Homo sapiens: one gene and its partners. The protein of the gene in region 3 purifies or fractionates together with the protein of the main gene of each other region. This does not show direct contact. Each region holds a gene or a part of one and is shown on either strand. Other genes may lie near its edges.

The links.
Region 1: the proteins of BCL7A (region 3) and TWF2 purify together in Homo sapiens (co-immunoprecipitation; 3 studies listed by BioGRID and IntAct, with this or other methods). This does not show direct contact.
Region 2: the proteins of BCL7A (region 3) and CAP1 purify together in Homo sapiens (co-immunoprecipitation; 3 studies listed by BioGRID and IntAct, with this or other methods). This does not show direct contact.

The regions. Positions count from the first base shown.
Region 1 is NC_000003.12:52,236,957-52,240,704, reverse strand, and holds the start of TWF2 (twinfilin-2), read left to right. Parts: upstream 1-1,546; 5' UTR 1,547-1,688; coding exon 1,689-1,713; intron 1,714-3,748. UniProt on the Homo sapiens protein: Actin-binding protein involved in motile and morphological processes. Inhibits actin polymerization, likely by sequestering G-actin. By capping the barbed ends of filaments, it also regulates motility.
Region 2 is NC_000001.11:40,047,160-40,050,807, forward strand, and holds part of CAP1 (adenylyl cyclase-associated protein 1), read left to right. Parts: intron 1-3,648. UniProt on the Homo sapiens protein: Directly regulates filament dynamics and has been implicated in a number of complex developmental and morphological processes, including mRNA localization and the establishment of cell polarity.
Region 3 is NC_000012.12:122,028,250-122,031,897, reverse strand, and holds part of BCL7A (B-cell CLL/lymphoma 7 protein family member A), read right to left. Parts: intron 1,199-3,648; coding exon 1,117-1,198; intron 1-1,116.

The DNA of each region.
Region 1 (3,748 bases), on a different chromosome or scaffold from region 3:
CTGGCACCATCTGGCTGTAGCAGGGTTCAGTGTGGGAGGCCTTGCCTGTGAACTGTTCTAGAAGGCAAGCTGCAGGGCTGCATAACACTCCATTTTCCACTGTGAGTGCTGGGGGGACAGTGGTTAGCAGATGACATAGGCCCAGTCTTCAGGGTGAGCGCAGGAAGATGAATGAGAAAACCCTTCAATTCTGTGTAGCTGGGCTCTCTGGGGATGAGAAACTCAGGGGTTGGGGGGCACAGAGGAGGCCTCAATGCAGGCTAGTGAGGGTGGGGAGCAAGACAGTAAATGGAGCTGAAGCTGGGGCCAGATGCCAGGTAGGCCACACATTTCATCATCACATCTCTCAGCAACCCCAGCCCAAAAAGCTGGCCTCCTTTCCAATCTTCCCAGCCAAAGTCCCTGGACAAGCTGATTGGACCAACCAGAGTCAGATGCTCATCCCTGACTCATCACAGTGGCCTGGAAGATGCCACATGTTGACTAGTTGGTAGCAGCAGGCAGGTACTGGTACCAGTAAGGCAAGGCTGCTGGATATAGACACAGAAGGTCATTAGGACATGGGAAGTTCCTCACCAGGCTCTGGCCCTCTTTCAACCTCTGGGCCTTTGCACATGCAGTGCCCTCTTCTCAGAAAACCTTTCTGGCTGGGACTAGTAAGTGGCTCACGCCTGTAATTCCAACGCTTTGGGAGTCCGAGGCGGGCAGATCACCTGAGGTCGGGAGTTCGAGATCAGACTGACCAACATAGAGAAACCCCGTCTCTACTAAAAATACAAAATTAGCCAGGCATGGTGGTGCATGCCTGTAATCCTAACCACTCGGGAGGCTGAGGCAGGAGTGAACCCGGGAGGCGGAGGTTGCAGTGAGCCGAGATCGCGCCAGTGCACTTCAGCCTGGGCAACAAGAGGGAAACTCCATCTCAAAAAAAAAAAAAAAGAAAAAGAAAAAGAAAGAAAACTTTTCCCTCCACTCTGCTGGGCTGTTTCATTCTCCCCTCTAGGTTTCCAATCTTCGCCTTCTCCTGGCAGCCCCTCACATTGTCTCGGCGGGCTCTCACCACCATACACTCCATCTAGTGGGTGAAGGCGGGCCTAGGCCCGTGAGGGCAAAGCCTAGCGGCCATGATCACCCCGAGGTGCCCAGGACCCCACGGGAGGCGCTCAAGAAACGGCCCCTGGGGAAGAGCTGGCGCGCCCACCCACAAGCAGACCCCTTCCTGGGTGCAAACCCGTGTACGCTGGGACCCACTCCTATTCGGAGACCCACCTGGCTTGGGGCGCACAGATCGGGCGCGCGCGCACGATCCGCCCCACCCACAGACCACCGTGATCAGGGCGCACAGACACACACGCGCGTCCTCCCACGCACGCTCGGTCACACGCAGGCCCCCCTCTCCTGCCACAGAGGAACGCGCTGGCGTGCGCACGGCGGATCAATCATCATCCTTAGACCCACCCGGACCGAGGCGCAGGCTGCGCGCACGCGCGGCCCCGAGTCCCCGCCTCCCTGCCGCGCCTGTCGGGGGCGGGGCGCCGCTGGGGGCGGGTCCTGCGGCACCGCCCGGGAAGCTGCGCGAGGGTCGACAGCCTCCGCCACATCCTCCACCTCTCTTGGTCCAGCGAGCGTTGCCGGGCCAGGGTCAAGCGGAGGGCTCCGACGGCGCGGACGGAGCGAAGCGCCGAGCCATGGCGCACCAAACGGGCATCCACGGTGAGGGCGGATGGCGGGCGGGCAGGGGGCCTCGGTCTGGGCTCTCGGAAGCGCCCCCCCCCGGCTCTCGGCCCCTCCCTCCACCCCACACCAGCCGGGAGAAAGCTTCCTGTTCTCTTTTGCAGCCGCGGGTCGCCTGGGGTGGGCACATCTGGGGGAGTACGGACGTGGTGTGCATAGCTGGGAGTGGGTGTATGTGTACGTACACAACTGGGGTGGAAGTATCTGTGTGCCTACCTGGAGATGAATGTGGCTGTGTGTGCCCATCTGTATATTTTTGTTCCTTTCCGGGAGTGGGTGTACACGCATGTGCACACGTCTTCCGTGTACAGTCCTGCCTGTGCACCTCTGGATGTGACTCGCTTGTGTACATCTAGGGTCATTCATGCACTGGCACTAGTGACTGTTTGAATGGACACTGTAGGTCGCATAGGACCCTCTTTAGACATCAGTGTTTCATGGCAGTGTGCACATGTATGTGGGTGTCTGTGTGTGTGCACAGTTGGAGCGCGTCTCAGTGTGCATTTTTGCCAAGGATGCATATACCGCATGTGTCTGACTTGAATGGGCTTGTTTATGTGTGTTAGGAGAAGGCCCTGACCTTTGCTCCTCCCAGGACACTCACTCTCCCCAGGCTAGGGAAAACCCGGAACAGAGACTTCTACGTGGGATGGAGAAAGCTGCCTATCTGACCTTGACCTCTGACCTCCCTCCCATTTTCCACTGTGACTTTCTGAGTCTGCCTCAGTCTGGTTGGAAGATCCCAGCTCCAGGCTGCAGACAGAGAAGAGGTCCAGATATGGGGTTTTGTGGGGAGAGTCCTGGCCCTAAAGAATCCAGGCCAGCTCCCACCCCCAGCCCCCAGCCCTAGGAAGCTTCACCATTCCCGCATCACACCCTCCCCTCCCCTAGGGGTCCCAGTTTCCTTCTTGGACAGGCTGTGAGAGAAGCAATGGCTGGGAGCCAGGTGCCCTGACTCTACCTGGGGCTCAGTGTCCTCCTCTGTCACTGGCCTGAGAGAGCTGCCTGGCCTGTGGGGAAGGCCCGGGCTGTTTGCCCAGACAGCCTGGCGGGTTTGGCCATCAGCCACCCCTCCCACCACACTAGGATCCCCTGCCTGGGGCTGCCACCATCGACCTGCCTGACCACCTGAATCCTGGTGCGGTTGTGGCCACTTGGTGGCTGGGCTGCCCTGAGAAGGTTTCCCTGGCCCCGCGAAGGCAGGGGCCTGGGTCAGGGCCAGGGCTCCCAGATGGGCCAGCCTTTCTCCAGGAGGAGCTGGCGGGCAGGCTTCATGACTCAGCCCCACAGGAGGGAACTGCCTCCTGGCCAGCTTCTTCCTTCCCCTTTGTCTGGTCATAGCTGCTGCCTCCCAGCCTCCAGCCCTGGTGGAGGAGATCCCAGGAAGTTAGCCACCCCATACCCCTTCCCTGCTGCCTCACTCCCTCCTTTCCCATAGTGAGACAGGCCCACCGAGGGGGTCACTGGGGACTGGGCTGCCCCTAGCCCTCCTTCCACCTGTGAGCAGCCCACTTCTTCCCATTTCTGGCCTGGGAAGTTGGCAGCAGAGATCACCCTGGAGGACCAGGTGCCAGCCCTGTCCTGACCATAGGTGTGGATCTGCTGACCGCAGAGTAGGCAGGAAAGGGACCTGTAATGTGAGGCTCACTTGAGTCGGAGGGAGGGTGTTCATGAATCATTGATAATAGAGGCTCAGGTGTCCCAGGCCTGGCCTCTGGATTATTGATGGTGGCTGGGCAGGCATTGGGGCTGGGGTGGGCAGGGATGTGCCTTTCCCTGTGGGGGTGTCAGTTTGCCCTGGTAACACTAGAAGGGGCCCGTCGGCCTGTCCCTTAGGGGAGCTTCTTGGCCTTCCTTCTGGGAAGGTCTGGGCAGGTAGAAGGGGCAGCTCAGCACAGTCAGCTTGCTGTTATTATCATAATAAAAGATTAATTGTTATTAATAGAGGCCACCATCGCCAAGCCCTTTCTCCCATTTACCCCTCACCACAGCCCTGCCAAGTTTGGGGCTATTA
Region 2 (3,648 bases), on a different chromosome or scaffold from region 3:
GGACCACTGTTGATTTTGTGGTCCATCCATTGACCAAAATGTCATTATGTAATGCATGACTGTAGTTTCATAATTTTAAATTAATGCAGCTACAGCATTCACCATGAAATTATTTCTTGATGTACTATATGTTAACCTGATAAAAACAAAGTTCTAAAAATATGCCTCAGCTACAGTGCTGCTTTGTTTGCCTTGTATTACCAGACCTTTTGTGCCAAACTTTTCCATTTGGCTGGAAAATAGTTGAAATGTTTAATGGAAGGAGCAGACTTGCTTTGTTTTGTTTTGTTTTTTCCTCCAGAGGGCATTGAAATTCCTATACTTTAGTTAATTATAGACTTACAGTCTTTCCATATTCCTACTTGTAGATGAATCATGGCTAAGGACAAACGTCATCCTTGAATCCATCTTTATATATTAGAGTGGGAAATGCTGTTTTATTAAAGCAACTATTCAGGCTGAAATCAGCCAATGCAGTTTTCCCTTACACGCTATAAAACATGTAGAAGTAGAAAGGGACTGCCGAGTGCTCTGTGCAATTAGTCTTCATAATATTCTTTGAACGTAGGAGAGAAGAGAACCCATGACCACACAAAGTTACCTGTTTGCTCCAGACATTGAAACAGCTAGTTCCCAAGTCTAATTTCACTTTATACACTAACTTTACTCACTCCTGGAGTTTCAGGTAGAGGACATGTGTAAGGAGGGAACAGGAGACAGGTGTTGATGTTGGGTTGGATTCCTTCCCTCCGTAGAAGATAGGCCTTTCTTTTAAAATCTAAACCTCGGGTGGCAGTGACTCAGGCACTAAATGTCATTGGTTTAATCAGTGAAACCAAATGCTTAGAGAAGAACAGTGGCTCCTGATTTGGGTTAGATTTAGATGGCATCTTTTTTTTTTTTTTGAGATGGTGTCTTGCTCTGTCTTGGCTCACCGTAACCTCCGCCTCCCGGGTTCAAGCAGTTCTCCTGCCTCAGCCTCCTGAGTAGCTGGGATTACAGGCATGAGCCATTGCACCCACCCACCATCACGCCTGGCTAATTTTTTTATTTTTGTATTTTTAGTAGAGACGGGGTTTTGCCATGTTGGCCAGGCTGGTCTCGAACTCCTGACCTCAGGTGATCTGCCCTTCTCAGCCTCCCAAAGCGCTGGGATTACAGGCATGAGCCATTGCACCTGGCCTTACAGGCATGAGCCATTGCACCTGGCCTAAATGGCATCTTTACTGGGGCAAAGTGGTGCCTGTTATTTGGTTTCTGTGTTAAACAAGCCAACTTGTATCTTCTGGTAGCATGTGTAGGTTTTACTTTGTGACATGTTAAAACCTCGTGATAAGAATTCATTAGAAGTAGAACTAACTACTACATAGTTTAGTGGTAATTTAGAAGGGATAGTCAAGTAGAGATTTTTATTATTATTATAAAATATTATATGTTAAAAGAAAGTTTGGAAAACAGGTAGAAATTGTCAAAAACCCATCACCCAAATGTGACAAATATTGTAAATTTTGCGTTCAAGTTTTTTTCCACACTTCATTTAGCTATTCCCCTATAATTAGAAGTCCAAGATAGATATAGATAGATCAATAGATCTAACATTGCAGCAAACATCTCCATGCTTATCACTTTTCTCACATTATGATTTACTTTCTTAGGATAAAACCTCAGGAACAGGATTACAAAATTAAGAGAAGCATTTTGAAGCAAATCAATTGGGCTACCATAGTAGACAGGCTGATTTGTATGGGTGCTTTATTTTCAATTTTACCTAAGGATGATGACTTAGAAAAACAACTGTGGGACAAAGTAGAAAACATTTCAAGCATAGCAACTTCCTACTCAAGTAGAAATTCATGCTACTGTCTTAATTGCCTGGTGGGATGCAACAAGAACTGCACGCATAACCTGGTTCCATTTACTTCTGAATGACTTCCTTGAATAGGCAGAAGGAATTGGGTTAAGTTGTTAGAAGTATAAGAGTGTGAAGCAGCTTTGGCAGGAATCACTAGCCATTTCTAATTTTTTTTTTTTTTTTTTTTTTTTTTGAGACAGAGTGTCTCTCTGTCGCCCAGGCTGGAGTGCAGTGGCGCGATCTCGGCTCACTGCAAACCTCCGCCTCCTGGATTCAAGAGATTCTTGTGCCTCAGTTCTGGCAGAAGGTGGTGTTTTTACAAGATGATTTCTAGGATTACAGGCATGCACCACCATGCCTGGTTAATTTTTGTATTTTTAGTAGAGACGAGGTTTCGCCATTTTAGCCAGGCTGGTCTCGAACTCTTGACCTCAGGTTATCTACCCGCCTCAGCCTCCCTAAGTGCTGAGATTACAGGCCTGAGCCACTGCGCCAGGCCTGGTTTTTTGGTTTCAAACCACAATAGACATTGCTGGAGAATCAAGCTCATAGTTTCTTTTTACTCTGCATGATATCCCTCCAAAAGCTTGTCTGTTCTCATGACTTCATGACAGTTCTTTGCCAATGATTTGCAAACATTATCTCCAGTCTTGATTCTTTCCTAGGCTTTATTTCTAAATACTCACTAGTCATTTCCACTTAGAAGCTTTGTCTTCTTTTCAAACTCAGCATATCCAAAACTGACCTCATCTTGTTGCCCTAACTAGAACATGCCACAACCCATTTCTGCCTATAATGTCATTATTCTCTTAAGGCCCCCATATTTGCAAATCAGGAGTCATCTTTGCCTCCCTTCTCTGAATGCTGCTGTGCTCACAGTCAGTACCATACAGTTAGTACTTGTTCTCAGTTTAATGCACACTTGTTTCATATGACCTCCTAGGGCAGAACCAAGATTCGTGGGTGGAAGTTGCAGGGAGGCAGATTTGCCTCCATATAAGGAAGAACTTTTTAATACTTTGAGCTGTCTGAATGGAATGGACTGCCTCCAGAAGTCTCGGGTTCTCCATCACTGAAGGTGTTTGAGCAGAGGCTGCCTGACTAATTGCTAATTGAAAGGACTGTTCTGGCATAAGATGGTGTTTTTACAAGATGATTTCTAGAATCCCTCTAATCCTGAGAGCCAGTGAGTCGATAGAAGGTAGCTTTGTCTCTCCTGCTAGACTCCCTTAGGACAGGGAGACTATTTTACCTTTCTTTTATATTCTGTACAGCACTTAATTCAGGTGCTGGTCTCTTAATTGCCTAAAGATGATTATTTACAGGTTAATTGATTCTTTTCATTTTGTTCCAATATTTGGTTAAACACCAAATATTGTGGATTTTTTTCCTTTGAAATATCTTGGGGAGACCAAGGCAGGTGGATCACCTGAGATCAGGAGTTCGAGACCAGCCAGGCCAACATGGCGAAACCTTGTCTCTACTAAAAATACAAAAATTCGCCGGGCGTGGTGGTGCATGCCTGTAGTTCCAGCTACTCGGGAGGCTGAGGCAGGAGAATCGCTTGAACCTGGAAGGTGGAGGTTGCAGTGAGCTGAGATCATGCCATCACACTCCAGCCTGGGCAACAGAGTGAGACTCCATCTCAAAAAATTACAGTAATAATAAATAAATACAAATATCTTTTGTAGTAGCATTATTTTAGATGAATAACAGCTTTTAACCTAACTTTCTAGACCCTAATATCATCACTTGTCTCCACATCCCATTCTGTTTATCAGACAGTACTTGTAAGC
Region 3 (3,648 bases):
AATGAGAGGGGTCTCTGGAGGTAACTGGCCTGGGAACCACGAAGTTGGGAGAGCACTGTCTGCTCGGGGCAGTTGCCAGCCATCACAGGACAGCGCCTCGCATTCCCTCTAGTGGTGGAAGTCGGGATGGCGCCACCCCTCCTGGAGCCCTCCTGGAGCCCCGCATCCCTACACCAGGCTTTCCTAGCACCGGGGACCCCTGTCACCAGCAGCTCCACTCACCAGAAGCCTCTCCAAGCGCAGAGAGAACCTGCGCTTTGGAGTCAGACAGACCTGAGCTCCATTCACAGCTCTGAGGTGAGCCATGTGAAGTGGCTTCACCTCTCTGAGCCTGTGCCCTCACTTGTACAGAGGAGAGGTTAAAAAGATCAACTCCACAGGCTGAGTAGGAAAAATAACGGAGATGCCACATGTGAGGCATCAGCCCAGGGCCTGGCAGATGGTCAGAGGCTCAGGAACAGAACCACAAAGGTGGGGAGAACGTGCCTAACTGTGGGCACCACCACACCTGCCCCAAAACACAGTGCCAAGCCCTGGGGGGGGCGCTCGGCCCAGAAGACACAACTTGCAGGCCGGGCGCACTGGTTCACGCCTTAACTCCAGCACTTTGGGAGGCCCAGGCAGGTGGATCACCCGAGGTCAGGAGTTCAAGACGAGCCTGGCCAACACGGTGAAACTGCGTCTCTACTAAAAATACGAAAAAATTGGCTGGGTGTGGTGGTGTGCACCTGTAATCCCAGCTACTCGGGAGGCTGAGGCTGGAGAATCGCTTGAACTCACGAGGCAGAGGATGCAGTGAGCCAAGATCACACCACTGCACTCCAGCCTGGGCGGCAGAGTGAGACTCTGTATCAAAAAGAAGAAGAAGAAGAAGAAGAAGACACAGCTTGCGGGATCCCCCCGTCCACCGCTCTGAGGGCCAGACTCTGGGGCTGGAGTGGGAGGGGTGGGGACTGGTACAGCAGCCTCCCCAGGTCTAATCTGGGTCCTTCTACTCCCAGGGGCTCTTGGTCCCAGAGCCCCAGCACGGTGGGTAGCAGTGGACAATCTCCCTCCCCATGGTGGGAGGAGCACGAATGGGTGGCCCACCCCAGGGGACCAGCCCTCCATACTCACGTCATCAACCTTGGGCTCCGTCACAGGGACCCATTTGTAGATTCGTAGGGATGTGTCACCAACGGTCACCCATTTCTTCTCCCTGAGGAGGATGAGGAAGAGCCTGTTACCGGGGACTCTTCATCCCTGGGGGACACAGGCCACACTCCCTTGGGGCTGAGAGCAAGCTCCAGATCACACAGATGAGGGTTGGAATCCCAGCTCCACCCTCACTAGCGGGAGGCCCTGGGCAGGCCACATCACCCATCTAAGCCTGGTTTCTCCACCCGTTACACCACATAGGGTGGTTGCCCTCTCCAGGCTGTCGCCAAAAAGGCTGAGGGTGGGGCTGCCATTACAAGGACTCCTATGGGTGGCACGAGTCGGGCCCAGGTTCCTCCTGTGTCACTGCCAATGCCACGCAGCCAGTGGACTGGGCCACCCGCGCCTGTCTGGGCAGCAGAGAGGGCTTCAGGCCAGCAGGCCGATTCCTCTCATGGGGGGTGGAGTCGTCACCAAGGACACCCCGGGGCTCCTCCTGCCCTCTGGGCGATGCGTCTGAGGTCAGGGGAGGCATGAGCAGGCAAGCCGGGGAGCCGCCCACACTCTGCCGGAAGAATGCCCTTCGTGGCGGCCAAGGAGAGCCAGGGAGTGGTGACCTCGGCCCGAAAGGAGGTTACACAGCCTGAATGTGTGGGTGCAGCCAGGTGGGAGGGGAACTGCACCCCTGATTCAGGGCTCCTAGTGACCCTGTCTGCAAGGTCACCCCAGCTGCATTACAAACGCCTGAAGGACGGAGTCCAGACCCCCCACTGTGAGAGGCAGGTTTATGGATGAGGAGAAACTTACAAGCCACAGAAGCAAACAGGACTGGTTTTCATTCGAGATAACAATGCCCACCCTCTCCTCCACCACCACCACTCTGCTCCGAGCCACTGTCATTTTTCCGATTATTGCTACAGCCAGCCACCTCCTGTCCTTGACCCCCTGCACTCCGACTTGTCCCTTACCGCCACGAAGACCCAGCAGCCACACCCCTGAGGGGACTGAGGCTCAGGAGAGCCTCCCAGAAGCAGGGCTGGGGTTGGAACCGAGGCTCCTAAATCAAGACTCTGCCAGATCAGGAGACCTGCGAGGCCACCAAGGAGCCACTGATGGCTCAGCTAGGAGGCTGGCGGATTTAAGGGGCCCAGCAGGCACTGTTGGGGCAGGCGCACCCCTGGTACAGGCGACGTAGCTGCCCGAGTCCTCAGCAATTTTGGTGACAAAAATTCCCAGAACTGAGAATTCTGTGTGGCACGAGCACCTCTGTCCGTGAGCTGCCTGGCACCTTTTTTTGGCCTCTCTGCCCAAACTCAGCCTTAGATCACCCCCTCGTGGGGCATGTGGCCCTCACATGCTGGTGTGACAGGTTACAGGACTCCCACCCTGTCACCACGGGGGTTGCGGGATGACGGAGCATACTCAAACCCAGCCAGCCGAAACCACAGACACCTCACCCCCAAAAACCCTGCCCGCTCGGGTCCCACGTGTTCCATCAGAGGACGCTACGGCCCGGCTTTTCTTATTATACCAGTGGCCATTCCTAGCGCCTTCTATGTACCAAGGACTGTGCCGGCTCATCCGGCAGGAAATGGCAACTTCCCCATTTGACAGATAAAGAAACCGAGGCACAGGGCGGTGAAGGTGAACTCATTCTCCCAGAGCCAGCACTCGAACCCTTCACCCAGCACAGCTGTTGAGACCAGCCTCTCTGCTCCCTCCTCCTTGCACCTTTTCACCCAGAAACGATGCAGGAAAGACGAGTGTCTAAGTCCACTGGCCCGTCTCCTGCCTCCTGTGGGCAGAGCAGACAAACCACAATGCCCACCTTTCCCCTCCTCAATTCTGAGCAATCAGAAGGTGTCCAGAAGAGACCGAGTGCTCCTGGGAAGAACCTCAGTTGTTAGAGCAACCATCACAATAGCCACTGTGTGCCCAGGCTATTACATGCCAGGCTCCACGCCAAGCACTCTACTTACACACCCTCTCTCCCTGGGATTCCCAACAGGCTACAAGAGGGGGACGATTGTCACCCTTTTTACAGATGCAGAAACAGGATGCCCAGAGAGGTTATACCACTAGCTTGGGGTCTCACAGACAGGAAGTGGCAGAAGAGAATTAGATTTGGGCTCGGACCCCAGACACCACCTCCTGCTATTCTGTTGGCCATGAAAACCAAGAATCATTCTAAAGGAGCGCCAGGGTAACAGAAGCTGGAGGAAGAATGACAAATTGCCAGGACTCCATGCAGATTGGCCAAAGCCATTCATTACTCATGAGCCCTGGACCAGCTTCCCAGTAAATCAACCCATTCAAGGTTTGATTGTGTTTGGGAAAAAAAAAAAAAAGTAATTGACTTGTAACACACAGGACACCTTTCAGGGCAGAAAGTGTGCCAGAGATCTGGGCTTTGCGGCCGCAAATCAGCCAAGATGCAAGTTTGCAGCTGCTTCCCAGCGAGGCTCGAGGCCACCGCAGGCTACAAGCTGAATGCAGCCAGGCTTTCGTGCC